Linked DNA regions of Homo sapiens: region 1 is linked to region 2. Evidence: fine-mapped expression QTL. Tissue or cell type: tibial artery. Region 2 holds a variant in brackets; the other region holds the start of a gene. All regions are shown on one strand. Distances are from middle to middle.

Region 1 (8,085 bases), 41 kb after region 2:
CTCAGTCTACACAGCCAGGATTTACTGAGCCACCTACTGCGTGCCAGCGCCGGGTGAGGCCAGAGGCATGTTTACCCCACTCCTGCACATTCCGTCTCCTTGTTCCTCCACCCCTTCTTCCAACCCCTCTGTTGCCCAGGCTGGAGTGCAGTGGCGTGATCTTGTCTCACTGCAACCTCTGCCTCCCAGGTTCAAGCGATTCTCCCACCTCAGCCTCCTCGGTAGCTGGGATTACAAGTGTGTGTCACCACACCTGGTTAATTTTTGTATATTTGGTAGAGACAGGGTTTCACCAGGTTGGCCAGGCTGGTCCCCAACTCCTGACCTCAAGTGATCTGCCTGCCTCGGCCTCCCAAAGTGCTGGGATTACGGGCGTGAGCCACAGCGCCCAGCCTCTTCCAATCACTCTTGCCCAAATCCTAACCAGCTTCCACCTGCCCACGCTGAGGCTACCCTGATTTTCCTTCTCTGTGGTCTCTCTTCTCTGTGCTCCTCTCACCCCCATCGCTGCACCTTTAGCACAGAGTCTCAGATTAAAGGGAACCTCAGAGCTCCCCCTGCCAACCCCTGTCACGCACACCTGTGGGCTCAGGGTCAGACTGCATTAGTCTCTGAGCCAGGAGGACACAGGTCCAGATGATCCCCACCGGAGCCCCATGCTGCCATCATCCTGACGGCTCTTGATTGTGAGGATGTCTAGTCTCCATGGCTAGACTTCAAGTATTTTGGAGGCCCTGGCCACACTTGACCCTTCCTGATCCACCCACAGCTCACAGCAGGCCCAAAGGTGGGCACAGGAGGAACCCACAAAACTCTGCTTTTGAGCCAGGCATGGTGGCTCATGCGTGCAATCCCAGCACTTTGGGAGGCCAAGGCAGGAGGATGGCTTGAAGCCAGGAGTTCAAGACCAGCCTGGGCTAAAAAGCAAAACCTCCATCTCTACAAAAAAGTTTTTTTAAAAATTAGCCAGGTGTGGTGGCACATGCCTGTAGTCCCGGCTACTCAAGAAGCTAAGGCAAGAGGCTTGCTTGAGCCCAGGAGTTTGAGGCTGCCAATGAGCTATAATTGCACCTCTGCACTCCAGCCTGGGCAACAGAGTGAGACCCTGTCTCTAAAAAGAAAACAAAAACAGGCTGGGTGCAGTGGCTCACACCTGTAATCCCAGCTCTTTGGGAGGCCGAGGTGGATGGATCACGAGGTCAGGAGATCAAGACCATCCTCGCCAACATGGTGAAACCCCGTCTCTACTAAAGATACAAAAATTAATTGGGCATGGTGGCACACACCTGTAGTCCCAGCTACTCGGAAGGCTGAGGCAGGAGAATTGCTTCAACCTGGGAGCTGGAGGTTGCAGTGAGCCGAGATCATGCCAGTGCACTCCAGCCTAGTGACAGAGCGAGACTCCATCTCAAAAAAAAAAAAAGAAAACAGAAACAAAAAAATCTCTGCTTGTATGAGTGACACCAACAATCCCCAGACGAATAGATGCCTGTCCCCTCTCCCAAAGTGCTCACACATACTAGCACAGAGACAAATATTTGCTGGCCCTTTCCATAGTCACTGCAGGGCAAGTGACCCCATAGCCTGCATGTTTGGTCCAGTATGAATGTCTGAACCCAGCCCCTTTGTGTATCCAGGGACAGGTGACGAGTGTCTTGGTAGGGAAGGCTAAGATGCACTGAGGTGAGAGACAGGCCTGCCATGCAGTTTGTTTTTCTAGATAAATTCCACACAGTCTTCTCCAGATGAGAAAGAGGATCTTGAGCTTTCTGGGGCCTCATGGATACAACCTGTGGATCTCAGAGTTGCTACCCTGGGGGGCAATCACACAGTCCTGGGTTCAACTCTGGCTTAACCACTTCCTAGCTGTGTTAGGCAGTTTCCTCATCTGCAAAACAGGAGTGCGAGCTTCCCTACAAGGTTAATATCATGATTAGAAATGAGATATGAAAACCCCCTGGCACAGTGTCTGGCACATAATGACCACACCGCCACCACCACCACCATCATCATCACTATTATTCCTCCAAGGCAAAGGGTCAAATTCTGGTAGCCAAAGAGAGCTGCCACTTCAGATGTGAGCTTACAGAGGCCTGGGTTCTAGTACCTTCCCTGCCACTTTCCAGCAGCAGGATCCTGGGCTAGTCACATCCCCCTTGTAGGTCTGTTTCTTCCATTGTAAAACTGGGGGAGGGTGAAGAAAGAGATCTGTATAGGTCCCTTCCTGTCTGGCACCCTCTATCTTATGTGCAGCTTAGGGGGATTGGCCTGGTTTGTATTGGCAAACAGCCAGGAGTTCCAATGGGAAGCCAGCAGACACTGCATAGGGTCAGGCCAGAGAAGGTTAAGTTAGAATGAAATCAAGTCCAGTCTCATCTCTTCCATCCACCTCCCATCCGGCACCCTCTTTCTGGCCACATCCAATACCCACTGAGCTACCTGAGCCTTTGCCCATGCTGGGTCTTTGTCCAGAATTCTCTGCCACACACCCCAATGCTCCATTGGTACACATTCTTCGCAGGCCCACTCAAGTGATCCTCCGCCCCAGGCAGAACCATGTACCTAATCTTGATTGAGCATTCCCACCCCCAACACATCCCTCAGCTGAGTAGATGCAGTGTGCCAGCATTTTGGACACTATAGGTCTCAAAGGAATCCAGTGAGCTGCACTATGCGCTTTTGAGGGAAAGCCCCGGGATTCAGCTGTCAGGATTCAGCCAGGGCTGCAGGATCAAGGACTCACAGTGCAGACACCGACACAATCTTTCTCTCCCCTCTCCCAGACGGTGCAGCCAAAGCTGCCCCAGGCCAGCTGATGCCCACACAGACGCTGCTGCCCGGCCTAGAGGCCCTGGCACTGGGCGCACTCCTTGAGGGAGGTTCGGAGGTGCCCTCATTCCACCTGTGGCCAGTCAGGCTCCTCTCCTCTGAGTGCGTGCCCCATCTGATGCGGTCTCCACTCGCTATCCAGCCCCAGCATTCCGGGTGAGCTGGGCCCTTCAGCACTTCTACCACTCAATGGCTGTGTGACCTTGAACAACTCATTTGAACACCCTGTGCCTCAGTTTCTCATCTGCGAAATGAAGATAACATAATGTCCTACCCATATGGCCGCAGCGAAGATCAAATGACGTGCCTCTCCTGGGTCAAGGCCTGGCACACAAAGTACAGCACGCAGTCAAGGATCGCTATTACCTTTATTATTTGTAGCTAACCTCTCAGCCGCTGCTCCCCGCTCACCTGGCGGGTGTGGTCCCCGAGTCCCAGACGCACTGGCAAGGTCCCCTCGGCCCAGTGCGCGGACCGGTAACCATTCCGCTCGGAGCCACACAGACGCCCCACACGGAGGTGGCCGTTCGGAGGGCGCCAACCTCACCCCTGGCACTCCCCAAACGGATGCGGGGGTCCTCTCGGCCTCGGCCCGCCCCCCTCCCTCCTCCAGGCAGACTCACGGCCGTCGGTCTCCCACGCCAGCTCCTCCTGCATCCTGCCGCTCCGCAGCCCCTGCGCGCGCTGGTGCCCGGGCGCGAGGCGCGCGTCCGCCGGGGCGGGGCCCGGGGAGCCGAGAGGACGGGGCGGTCGCTCCTCCAGACTCCACGCCCCGCCTGCTAGGAGCGCAGCTGCCCCGGCCACCCCAGTCCCGGACCAGGACGCAGGTCCCTCCTCCTGCTCTCTTAACCTGCCCACCCCTCCGCGCCCGAGGCCGGCGGGTCGGGGCCACGCCGAGTTCCGCAGGTGTCCCTGACCCAGTCTCCTCCCCGGGAGTTCGCCCAGCCTCCCCGGCCCTGGAGATAGATGCGCACAAGGCATCTGGCAGGCTCATCCTCCTCGCGCCTCTCGGGACTCGGGGAGGAGGGCTGAGCCTTGGGCCCGCCGCCTCAGGCGCAGAAAGTCAAACCCCAAAGATGTGAGCTGGCGTTTAAGGGACCACAACCTCAGCAGGTCTGCAAGCATATGAAGAGATGGTCGGATTTATCAGTGTTCAGAAAGATTTATCAGGCCCATAAAGGGACATGTAGGAGGATGTTGGTTGCTGTGTTGCTGTGGTTGCTGGGAGTTGGAGACAATCTAAGCGCCCTTTCTTGTAAGAGCAGATGGATAAACTGTGCAGCACTCAAAGCAAGGGACCCGCTGTATTCGTGGCAATATGGATTTAAACACCTAGTGCTAGGCAGAAAAAGTAAATAACCAAACCAAATAAGACCTAGGAAACAATATCAATAAAAATATTACAAATGCATTTACATCAAACAACACAGACTTGCAAAGACACATAGAAACAAAAAGATACACATTAAATACACCAGAATGGGTTGCACTTCAGACCCTTGGGGGATGTCCATGTCCTTTTTGCCTTAAAGGCATTTACAGCTTCTTTGAATTTAGGGATAATGGGGTCTCAGGCATCTCTATCCCAAGGCAAGAAGCCAGCAAAGCCATGATAGGTGTAGTTACTACTACTTTGGGGATCAAAGGAGGAAGAGCATCTTTCAGTCATTAGTCCTTAGAATATAGTTCAAGAAGGCTTCCTGAAGAAGGAGGTATTTGGAATGGCCTTTGAAAAATAACATAATGATAACAGCTAACAATTAATGAGCCCTGAGCCAACCCCTCAAAATGGTCTCAAAATAACAATTCCAACATAATAATCAAAGATATGATTTTTTTTTTTCTGAGACAGAGTCTCACTCTTTCGCCCAGGCTGGAGTACAGTGGTATGATCTCGGCTCACTGCAACCTCTGCCTCCTGGGTTCAAGCAGTTCTCCTGCCTCAGCCTCCCATGTAGCTAGGATTACAGGCACTCGCCCCCACACCTGGATAATTTTGTATTTTTAGTAGAGATGGGGTTTCACTATGTTGGTCAGGCTGGTGTTGAACTCCTGACCTCAGGTGATCCACCTACCTTGGCCTCCCAAAGTGTTGGGATTACAGGTGTGAGCCACTGCGCCGCACCCCCCCCTTTTTGTTTTTGTTTTTTTTTTAAGACAGAGTCTCACTGTGTTGCCCAAGCTGGAGTGCAGTAGCGTAATCTCAGCTCACTGCAACCTCTGCCTCCCAGGTTCAAGCGATTCTCATGCCTAAACCTCCCAAGTAGCTGGGACTACAGGTGTGTGCCACCACACGCGGCTGATTTTTGTATTTTTAGTAGAGACGGGGGTTTCACCATGTTGGCCAGGCTGGCCTCGAACTCCTGACCTCAGGTGATCTACCCACCTAGGTCTCCCAAAGTGCTTGGCCACCACGCCTAGCCAAAGATATTATTCCTGAAAACAGTTTAAATGTTTTTTGTAAAGCTTTTGTCACATGTACATCCCACTAGGGGCATAGTGTCACGTTACTGTTTTAGTCACTTGGAATAGTTCTTTATGTGGTTATGCCACCAACTCAACATGCATGGTTTATTTATTTTGTTTTGCTTTTGTTTTTTGATATTTTTAAATGTTAATTTTGCTTTACAATTATGTAAAGTATTTACATGTTTCAAAGTTAAGTCTCTGAAGGTTGTCATAGTCAGCTGTGGTGATGGATGAAGAGGGCACCACTGGCTTCCAGCCTGCTGTCACTCTCCTTCACTCCACATCCAGCTTTTCTTCCCAGCTGCTGAGCCTGCTGACCAACAGTGGCCCCAGGCCATCGCGGACTTGGCTGCAGACCCAGGGCATTAGTACCACCCATAGACCTCCCCAGGAGCTTTCCCTTGTGGTTCCATTTTAGCAGCTGGACATACTTGGTTTCTCAGATGACTGACTAAGGACTCCTCTGATCCCCAACTCCCCTTCTGGTCCTTCCGCAACTGTGTAAGGCAAATTACTATCACAGATCCCTAATCCCAGGGGTCTCCAACCCCCAGGCTTCAGACTAGTACTGGTCTATGGCCTGTTAGGAACTGGGCCACACAGCAGGAGGTGAGCAGCAGGAGAGCGAGCATTACCACCTGAGCTCCGCATCCTGAAAGATCAGTGGTGGCATTAGATTCTCATAGAAGGGTGAACCCTATTGTGAACTGTGCATGTGAGGAATCTAGGTTGCACACTTCTTTTTTTTTTTTTTGAGATGGAGTTTTGCTCTTGTTGCCCAGGCTGGAGTGCAATGGCTCACTGCAATCTCTGCCTCCCGGGTTCAAGCAATTCTCCTGCCTCAGCCTCCCATGTAGCTGGGATTATAGGTTTGCGCCACCATGCCCGGCTAATTTTGTATTTTTTTAGTAGAGATGGGGTTTCACCATGTTGGTAAGGCTGGTCTCAAACTCCTGACCTCAAGTGATCCACCTGCCTCGGCCTCCCAAAGTACTGGGATTACAGGCGTGAGCCACCATGCCCAACCTAGGTTGCACACTTCTTATGAGAATCTAACTAATGCCTGATCATCCGAAGGGGAACAATTTTATCCCAAAACCATCCCCCCACCACCCAAGTCCTGTAAAAAATTGTCTGCCACAAAACTGGACCCTAGTGCCAAAAGGTTGGGGACCAGTACCCTAAACCCATAACCTCAACATGATTCTGCTTCCTTCACTGCATCCTGACTGACAAAATAACATTTGTGTTGTTGATGCTTACCCTTATATTGTTTAATTTAATCATATATTCTCCCTTTACTGCAGTAGCATACTATATATCATCTTCTTACTTTGCCCTGCCCCTTAAAATTCACCCATTTAAGTGTATAATTCAATGGTTTTTAGTACAGTATCGTTCAGAGTTGTATAACTATCACCACTAAATATTTTCATCACCCCAGAAAAGAAAGCCCATATGCTTTAGCTATCACCCCCCCTTGCAGTTTACCCTCCCCAACCCTCCACACACAGCCCTAGGCAACTACAAATCTACTTTCTTTCTCCATAGATTTGCCCGTTCTGAACATTCTTCTGGCTTTATTCTGGGAACAATCTACTACAGAGATCTCTCCGCAGTAGTCTGTTGAGATCTTCCTGCATCCTTTGTACAGCCTCAGAGTCCTCCATTGGGTGGCTTATTCAACCACTCCCTGTTGATGGACATTGGCCCTGTTTCCAGACTTTTGTTATTACAATAGAGTTACAATGACCAACCTTATGCATGCATCAGTTGGTATTTTTACCAGTGCATCTATGGGATCTATTCTTATAAATGGGATTGCTTGGTCAAAGGGTAAATGCACATATAACTTTGCTAGCTATTGCCAAATTCTCCTCCATAAGGTCCAGAAATATTTTGCATTTCCATTACCAATGTATGAGGGTGCCTGTTTCCAAGGAGAACATTCTGTAAAACTTGGATTTTTCCCAATCTGATAAGTAAGAAATAGTAATTCATTATAATCTTAGTTTGCATTTCTATCATTACAAGAAAAGTTGGTTATCTGTTTCTATGTTTAAGAGCCGTTTTCTTTTCTTTTTTTTCCTGAGAACAATCTGTTCTTATCCCACTCATTTTTTAAATGATTGTTGGCCTTTTGCTTAAGAGAAATTTTAAAACAGCTTTTTATTTCTTGTCTTATTAATGTTTGTTCATTACTAAAGAAATTTTAAAATACAAAGAAGGGGCTGGGAGCGGTGGCTCACGTCTGTAATCCCAGCACTTTGGGAGGCCGAGGTGGGAGGATCACGAGGTCAGGAGATCAAGACCATCCTGGCTAACATGGTGAAAACCCATCTCTACTAAAAAAATATATATATATAAAATTAGCCGGGCGTGGTGACGGGTGCCTGTAGTCCCAGCTACTCAGGAGGCTGAGGCAGGAGAATGGTGTGAACCCGGAAGGTGGAGCTTGCAGTGAGCTGAGATCAGGCCACTGCATTCCAGCCTGGGCGACAGAGTGAGACTCCGTCTCAAAAAAACAAAAAAAAAAAAAAAGAAGGGACAAAATACAATCAATCTACCAGAAGACGCCACCATGAATCACTTGTTATATATTGCGCTAGCCCTTTTCTAACAAAAGAAAAAAATACACACACACACACACACACACAAGAGTGGTAAATATTTGCTGGTCTTGTACCAGCATTTGGGAGCCAGAATGGCACTGGTTTCCTCTCTGCTTAGAGCAATCAGCTGCTTGAGAGGAGGGAGGGAGTGGCAGAAGCTCCCAGCCAAGTGGGG
Region 2 (8,102 bases):
CTTTTTCTCTAAAAATGGTGCAGCTATCCTCTGAACCAATTTCCTTCGGTTTAATGTACCTGTATCTTGGGGTTTTTTTCCACTTAATTTATCCTGGAGCTCTTTCCATAACAACACTTGGAAAGCACTCTCATCCTTTTTTCACTGCTGAACAGAATTCCACTGTGTGGATGGAACATACTCTATTTCACCAGTCCCCTGTAGCCAGTCACTTGGTTTGTTTCCAATCTTTTGCTTTTTCAGAGTAATAACCTTGTATGTCTATCATTTTGTATGCATACAGGTTTATATGTAGGAAAAATTCCTAGAGTAGGATTGCTGGACCAATGGATAAAAGTATATTGTGGACAGACAATGCCAAATTGCCTTTCAGAGACTGTGGCCCTGTGCACCCCATCAGGCATGTGTGACTACCAAAGCTCCTGTCAGCTGTTTTATTTTATCTCCTTTCCAGTCTCAGGCTCAATGCAGAACTTTGAGGTAAGCTTTTCTAAAATGTAGGCTCCTAAACGCCACAGCCAGCTCTGCCACATGAAGGAGAGCTCAAATGAGACAGAAACAGCCTCTGGGCAGGATTTCTATCCTGCACAGATATATTTTCCACATTCTGGGAAACCGTGAAGCTTCCAGAGCCACAATTCCCCAGAAACACATCCCCCTGCTGGTACAGCCAAGCCCCAGAACAAGCTGTGCTTGCCTGGCACCTCAAAGCCAAGCACCATGGATGCCACTTGCTATGGGTGCCTGCAATTTCAAATAATGAGAAATAAGAAATTTCAGCTTCTCAGTCCCTCTAGCCAACATTTCAGGTGCATGACAGCCTCAGGTGGCAAGCAGCTACTCTGCCGGACAGGGCAGAAGATGGAACACCCCATCCCTGGGGAAGATCACGAGGTCAGGAGATCAAGACCATCCTGGCTAACACAGTGAAACCCCGTCTCTACTGAAAATACAAAACATTAGCTGGGTGTGGTGGCAGGCACCTGTAGTCCCAGCTACTCAGGAGGCTGAGGCAGGAGAATGGCGTGAACCTGGGAGGTGGAGGTTGCAGTGAGCCAAGATTGCGCCACTGCACTCCAGCCTGGCAACAGAGTAAGACTCCATATCAAAAAAAAGAGAAAAGAAGAAGAAAGAAAGAAAGAAGAAGAAGAGGAAGAAGAAGAAGTGGAAGAAGAAGGAAAGAGGAAGAGGAGAAGCAGGAGAAGAACAAGGAGAAGAAGAAGGAGAGAGAAGAAGAGACAAGAAGAAGGAGAAGAAGGAGAGAGAAGAGACAAGAGAAGAAGGAAGAAGGAGGAGGAGAAGGAAGAAGAAAAGGAGAAGAAAGAAGAAGAAGGAAGAAGAAAGAACAACAAAAAGAAGGAGAAGAACAAGGAAGAAGAACAACTAAGGAGAAGGAAGAAGGAGAAGAAGAAAGAAGAACAAAAAGAAAGAAGAAGGAGAAGGAAGAAGAAGGAGGAGGAGAAGGAGAAGAAGAAGGAGAAGAACAAGGAGAAGGAGAGAAGAAGAAGAGACAAGAAGAAAGAAGGAGAAGAAGAAGGAAGAAGAAAAGGAAGAAGAAAAGAGGAAGGAGGAGGAAGAAGGAGAAGAAGGAAGAATAAGGAAGAAGGAGAACAAGGAGAAGGAAGAAGAAAAGAAGAAGGAGAAGGAGGAAGAAGGAGAAGAAAGAGGAGAAGAAGGAAGAAGAAGGAGAAGGAAGAAGAAAAAGAGGAAGAAGGAGAAGAGGGAAGAAGAAGAAGGAGAAGACGACGAACGAAGGAGGAGAGGAGGAAGAAGAGGAAGGAAGAAGAAAGAAGAAGAAAAGAAAAGGAAGAAGAAGGAGAAGAAGAGAAGAAGGAGAGGAGGAAGAAGAAGGAAGAACTAAGAAGGAAGAGAAGGAGAAGAAAAGGAGAACTAAGAAGGAAGAAGAAAGGAAAAGAAGGAGAAGAAGAAAGAACTAAGAAGACGAAGGAGAGGAAGAAGAAGAAGAAGAAAAGAATAAGGAACAAGAAAGAAGGAGAAGAAGAAGAAAAGAAAGAAGAAAGAATAATAAGGAACAAGAAGAAAGAGGAAGAAGAAAGGAGAAAAGAAAGGAAGAAGAAAAGAGGGAGGAGAAAGAAGAAGAAAAGAGGAAGAAGAAAGAAGAAGGAGAAAAGAAGAAGAGGAAGAAGAAAGAAAAGAAGAGGAAAGAAGGAAGAAGAAAGGAAAGAAAGGAAGAAGATAGAGGAAGAAAGAAGAAAAAAAGAAACAATAGAAGAAGAGGAAGAAAAGAAAAAAGAAAAAGAGAAGAAAGAAGAGGGAAGAAAGAAAAGAGGAAGAAGAAAGAATGAAGAAGAAAGAGGAAGAAGAGGAAAGAAGAAAAGAAGAGGAAAGAAGAAAAGAATAAGGAAGAAGAAAAAAAGGAAGAAGAAAGCAGAAGAAAGAAAAGAGGGAAGAGGAAGAAGAACGAAGAAAAGAGGAAAGAAGAAGGAGGAGAAGAAGGAGAAGAACAAGGAGAAGAAGAAAGAAGAAGGGAGAAGGAGAAGAAAAGAAGGAGAAGAAAGAAAAGAAGGAGAAGGAAGAGGAAGAAGAAGGAAGAAGAAGAAGAAGGAGAGAAGAAAGAAGAAAAGGAGAAGGAAGAAGAAGAACTAAGAAGAAGGAGGAAGAAAGAAGGAGAAGGAAGAAGGAGAGGAGAAGAAGGAAGAAGGAGAAGGAAGAGGAGGAAGAACTAAAGAAGAAGGAGAAGGAAGAGGAAGAAGAAGAAGGAGAGAAGAAAGAAGAAAAGGAAGGAGGAGGAAGAAGAAGGGAGGAGGAGGAGAAGAAAAGGAGAACTAAGAAGAAGAAAGGAAAAGAAGGAGAAGAAAGAAGAACTAAGAAGAAGGAGAGGAAGAATAAGAAGGAAAGAAGAAAGAAAAAAGTAAAAGAAGAAGAAAGAAGGAAGAAGGAAAGAAGAGGAAGAACTAAGAAGAAGAAAGAGGAGGAAAGAAGAAAGAAGAATAAGGAACAAGAAAGAAGGAGAAGAAAGAATAAGAAGAGGAAGAAGAAAAAGAAGAAAAGAAGGAAAGAAGAAAGGAGAAAAAGGAAGAAAAAAGGAAGAAGAAAGTAGAAAGCGGAAGAAAGAAAAGAAAGTATAAGAAGGAAGAAGAAGAAAGAAGGAAAGAGGAAGAAAAAAGAGAGGAAAGAAGAAAGGAAGAAGGAGGAGAAGAACAAGGAGAAGAAAGAACTAAGAAGGAGAAGAAGGAGAGACAAGAAGAAAAGAAGAAGAGGAAGAAAGAGAAGGAAGAAGAGGAAGAAGAACTAAGAAGAAGGAGAAGAAGAGAAGGAAGGAGAAGGAAGAAGGAGAAGAAGAAAGAGAAGAAAAGAAGAAGGAGAAGAGACAAGGAGAAGAAAGGAAGAAGGAGGAGGAAGAAGGAGGAGAAGGAGAAGAAAAGAAGAAGGAGAAGGAAGAAGAAAAGAAAGGAGGAGGAGGAGAAGAGGAAAGAAGGAGGAAGAAGGAGAAGAAGAAAGAAGAAAGGAGAAGAACTAAGAAGAAAAAGGAGAGGAAGAAGAAGAAGGAAGAAGGGGAAGAAGAAGGAGAAGGAGAAGAAGAAAGAAAAGACGAAGAAGGAGAGGAGGAAGAAGAAGACGAAGGAAGAAGAAGAAAAGAAGGAGAAGAAGAACGAAGGAGAAGGAAGGAGGAGGAGAAGGAGAAGAAGACGAAGGAAGAAGAAAGTAAGAAGAAGGAGAAGACGGTGACGAAGGAAGAAGAAGGAGAAGGAAGAAGGAGAAGAACTAAGAAGAAGAAAGGAGGAGGAGAAGAAAACTAAGAAGGAGAAGAAGAAGAAGGAGGAAGAAGAAAAGAAGGAAAGAGGAAGAAGAAAGAAGAAGGAGGAAGAACTAAGAAGAAGGAGAAGGAAGAAGGAAGAAAGAAAAAGAACGAAGGAGGAGGAGAGGAAGGAGAAGGAAGAAGAAAAAGAAGGAGAAGGAAGAAGGAGAAGAATAAGAAGAAGAAAGGAGGAGAAGGAAGAAGAAGAAAGAGGAAAGAAGAAGAAGAAAAAGTAGAAGGAAAGAAGAAAGAAAAAGATGAAGAAAGAGGAAGAAGAATAAGGAAGAAGAAGAAAGAGAAGAAAGAAGAAGAAAAGAAGGAAGAAGAGGAAGAAAAGAAGGAAGAAGAAGAAAGGAAGAACTAAGAAGAAGAAAGAAGAGGAAAGAAGAAGAAAAAGAAGATAGAAGATGGAAGAAGAAAGAAAAGAAAGAAGAATAAGAAGGAAGAAGAAAGAAGAGCAGAAGGAAAGAAGAAGAAGAAAAGAAAGGAAGAAGAGGAAAGAACAAGAGGACGAAGAGAAAAGAAAAAGAAAGAAGGAAAGAAGAAAGAAAAAGAAGAGGAAGAAGAAAGAAGAAGAAAGAATAAGAAGGATGAAGAAGAGGAAGAAAGAAGAAAAGAGGAAAGAAAGAAGGAAGAAGAAAGGAAAGAAGAAGAAAAGGAAAGAAGGAAGAAGAGGAAGAAGGAGGAAAGAAGAAAAGGGAAGAAAAAGAAAATAAGGAAGAAGAAGAGGAAGAAGAAAGAAGGAAAGAAAGAAAAAGAAGATAGAAGGAAAGAAGATAGAAGAAGAAAAGAAGAGAAGAAGAATAAGGAACAAGAAGAAAGAAGAAAGAAAAGGAAGAAGAAGAAGAAAGAAAAGAAAAAGAAAGAAGAGAAGAAAGAAGAGGGAAGAGGAAGAAGAAAACAGGAAGAAGGAAGAGGAAGAAGAAGAAAAGAAGAGGAAGAAGAAAAGAAAAAAGAGAAAAGAAAAGAAAGGGAAGAAGAAAGAAAAAGAAGAAAAGAGGAAGAAAAGAAAAAAGAAAAAAGAGGAAGAAGAAAAGAAAAAGAAAGAAGAAAGAGGAAGAAGAAAGAAGAGGAAAGAAGAAAGAAAAAGAGGAAAGAAGAAAGAAGAAGAAGAGAAGAAGAAGAAGAAGAAAAGAAAAAGAAGAAGAAATAAACAAAGTGTGCCAAGAGCTCAAAAGGACCATACCTGTTGGACGGGATTACAGGCCCTTGGACCCATCCTCATGAAAAAGATCAGTGTACAAACATTTGCCTCCTGGGCTCTGCATGACTGTGCATTTCAG[T/C]AGAATCACCTGGAGGTCTGTTAACAGTGATTTTTTAAAAAGCCCTTAAATGATGGTCATCTTCTGTTCAGGTGGCTCCACACGCTGAGGTCCCACGTGCCTGAAGGTCTGGCCCCTCCGGTTACATGGCTGTGCACCTCCTGGGGGCACTCGGGGCTGCGTTTGCTTTCTTCCTGATATTTTCTGTTAAAAACAAGAATCTTACTTCCTCTGTTGCCTAAGCTCTGCCTCACAGGACTGGTTTTATGTTTTAATTGCATGCCACAGTTTGTGTTAAAAGATGTAACAACTATATTTAAGAACATTTTGGGGAAAGAAAGGTAGCGTCCCTAATCTCTCTACCCTGAAATGAGTCTTAGCTTTTCCACCTTGCCTATAGCAGCTATGGGGGGGGGGGGGGGGGGGGGCGGTCCTTTCTTTTCCCTCAATAATATGCTAGAAACATTTCCCTCAGCAATATACTAGAAATATGTCAGGAGTGGTTTTCTTTGTTGCCTCATATCTAATGGAGACTTCACAACTATCAGTGGCTGCCTAGTGCCCCATTCTGTGGTTGCCCCATTATGTACCACGTCAGTGGGTATCACAGCGTTTAAGGCTTTTTCATCATGAGCTGATTTTGTTTTTAATGAGGGATTAGTACTAGAACCTTCTATCCTGCTTGTCTGATGATTCCACAGAACACTGAATCCCATATCAGGCTTTTGAGATTGGCATACTCAAATAAGTTGTGATGACCTCAGAAGGTTTATTTGACCAGATTTGACTGGTTCAACTCATATTAAGTCAGTTTTGGCTCCTATGTCTTAATGTTTGTGAAAAAAGTCTGGAGGTGGTTCCAGGCTTATTCCAAAATGGAAAAAAAATGTCAAGGTATAGAGGGCTGGTAAGGAAGAGATTATGGACAGCATCACTGGCTCCGGGGCTGTGAAGGTCACAGGGTTCAGTTTGGGCCAACACCCTCATTGCACAGATGGGGAAACCAGGGCCAGGAGGCACTGTAGTTTGCCCAAGGGAAAAGAGGGCAGGGCTAGGGGTAGGAATCTGGAAGGCCTAGAGCCAGCATCACAGCATTCTTGTCTGAGCAGCCCTTGGAGGGCCCTGCTGCATTCCAGTGGGGGCCACCCAGCTCCTGAGAAGCAGCCCAGCAGAGTACGCTCTTACCAGCCAGGTCCCTCCTGCCAATGGCCACGAGGCCCTCGAACAGCGCTTTGCTGGGGTTCTCACCAGCCGTGGCCACGCCATGCAGCCAAATGAGCAGCATTCGGTGGCCGTGCTCCTGATAGCTCCTGGTGCCTGAGAACAGTGAGGGAGGAGAGAGAGAGGGAGAAGGAGCCAATGGGGCCACTTGACCAGAGCGCCTGTCTATGCCACCCTGCACCGCCTCCTGAACATGCCCAGGTGGGAAAGAGGCCAAAAGCCTCCAAGGCCCTTCTCCATGCTCCAGCCAAGCTCAGCCTGGAGATAGGTAAGGGGAGTGGAGGAGCAGCCTCTCAGATGGGGAGGGAAGGGTTTGTGTCTTGGTCTCTAGAACCTCCCCAGCCCCAGGCCTTCTCCTGAACACCCACTATGCACTCTGTTGGTGTCACTCTGAATGGAGAAAGAATTGACTTTCATCGTTGTGGTACCATGATGCACAAATTGTATACTTCACCTCTCTGGCTGCTCAAAATAATCTGTGTCTTGCATGATAGTGGTCCTAATTTACAGATGAGAATACAGCTTAGTCAGAGATGGAGCTGGCCATGCTTTCCCCTGCACCAGTGGTTCTCAGACTCAGCTGCTCCTTGGAAACACCTAGGGCCCATGTCACCCCCAGAGATTCTCATGTACCTGGGACTGGGTGCAGCCTAGGCATTTAACGGTTTCAAAATTTCCCAGGTGGTTCCAACATACAACCATGTTTGGAAAATAATTGCCCACACGGCATGGGGTTAACATGTTATTCAGCTGGCTGTGATTCAGCTGGCTCTCCAGTGCTGTGGAAACAGACAGATGCTGGGCCACGCCCATCAGGTCCAGGTCACTCCATTCGCCCCTCTGACCTTCCGTGCCCCTCTTGGGGCCCTCAGCAGGCATGTCCTCACGGTACTGCCCTTGGTGTGGTGGCACTTCCGCTTGACCCAGCAGTCTCAACACCATTTATTAACTATCTCTGCCCCCGCCACTGTAATGTACAAGTGCTTCTTTATCATATATGAAAGTTCTTATCCGTAGCAGCGTTTACTTTTGAACTCTGCTCTATCCCAAATTGATATGCAAATGTCAATTTGCATATTTTTGTGTCAGGAATCTTTTTTTTTTCCTTTGGGAGACAGAGTCTCACTCTGTCCCCCAGGCTGGAGTGTAGTGGTGGGATCTCGGCTCACTGCAAACTCTGTGTCCCGGGTTCAAGCGATTCTTAAACCTCAGCCTGTCGAGCAGCTGGGATTACAGGACCCGACCATCATGCCCAGCTAATTTTTGTATTTTTAGTAGAGACGGGGGATTCACCATGTTGGCCAGGCTGGTCTCAAACTCCTAACCTCAGGTGATCTGCCCACCTTGGCCTCCCAAAGTGCTGAGATTACAGGTGGGAGCCACTATGCCTGATCCAGATATCTCTTTATGTTAATTTTATTTTGGCTTTATAAAAGGCTGAGTCTGCTTGGGTTAGATCCCCTTTATTGTTTTCCCCCAGAATGTTCACTTTTATATCCCTGTTTATTCTTCCAGACAAATTGTAGAATACTTCAGTCAAGTTTCAAAAACCTATTTTGATTAAAATTAGATCAAAGTTTTAATCTAATTGGAGAAAAACTGATATTTATATGATACTTTTTCTTGCCACAAATACAGAATGTCATTCCATTTACACAAGTCTTTTATAGTTGAACCATTATTGTTTTATTCATATGTGTCATCTGTATTTGTCTTTTAGGTTTTCCAGATGAAACACACACACCATTGTAAATGGAATCTCTTTTAAAAGATTCTCTCTCTATATTTTTTGCCCATTTAGCCATGGTTCATAGGAGTTCTGTGGTGTTAGTATATTTTCTATATTTAGCCATTTCCTT

The links. PIP is the estimated chance that this variant, and not a neighbour inherited with it, causes the effect.
Region 1: ANKDD1A starts here. The variant in region 2 is fine-mapped to the expression of ANKDD1A in tibial artery (GTEx, PIP above 0.99). The same link has a PIP of 0.9 or more in lung.

The regions. Positions count from the first base shown.
Region 1 is chr15:64,907,332-64,915,416 of GRCh38, reverse strand. It overlaps ANKDD1A (ankyrin repeat and death domain containing 1A), which reads right to left and starts at 3,515. Exons shown (of 15, transcript NM_182703.6): 1 at 3,453-3,515. The coding sequence starts at 3,486. RefSeq lists enhancers at 1-52, 2,760-3,303 and silencers at 3,490-3,669, 3,870-3,919, 3,993-4,287.
Region 2 is chr15:64,948,078-64,956,179 of GRCh38, reverse strand. ANKDD1A (ankyrin repeat and death domain containing 1A) reads right to left here. Exons shown (of 15, transcript NM_182703.6): 14 at 6,208-6,339. Among named protein-coding and RNA genes, the nearest start is that of SPG21, 38 kb to the left of the region's middle. The variant T/C (reference allele first, on the strand shown) is at 5,044.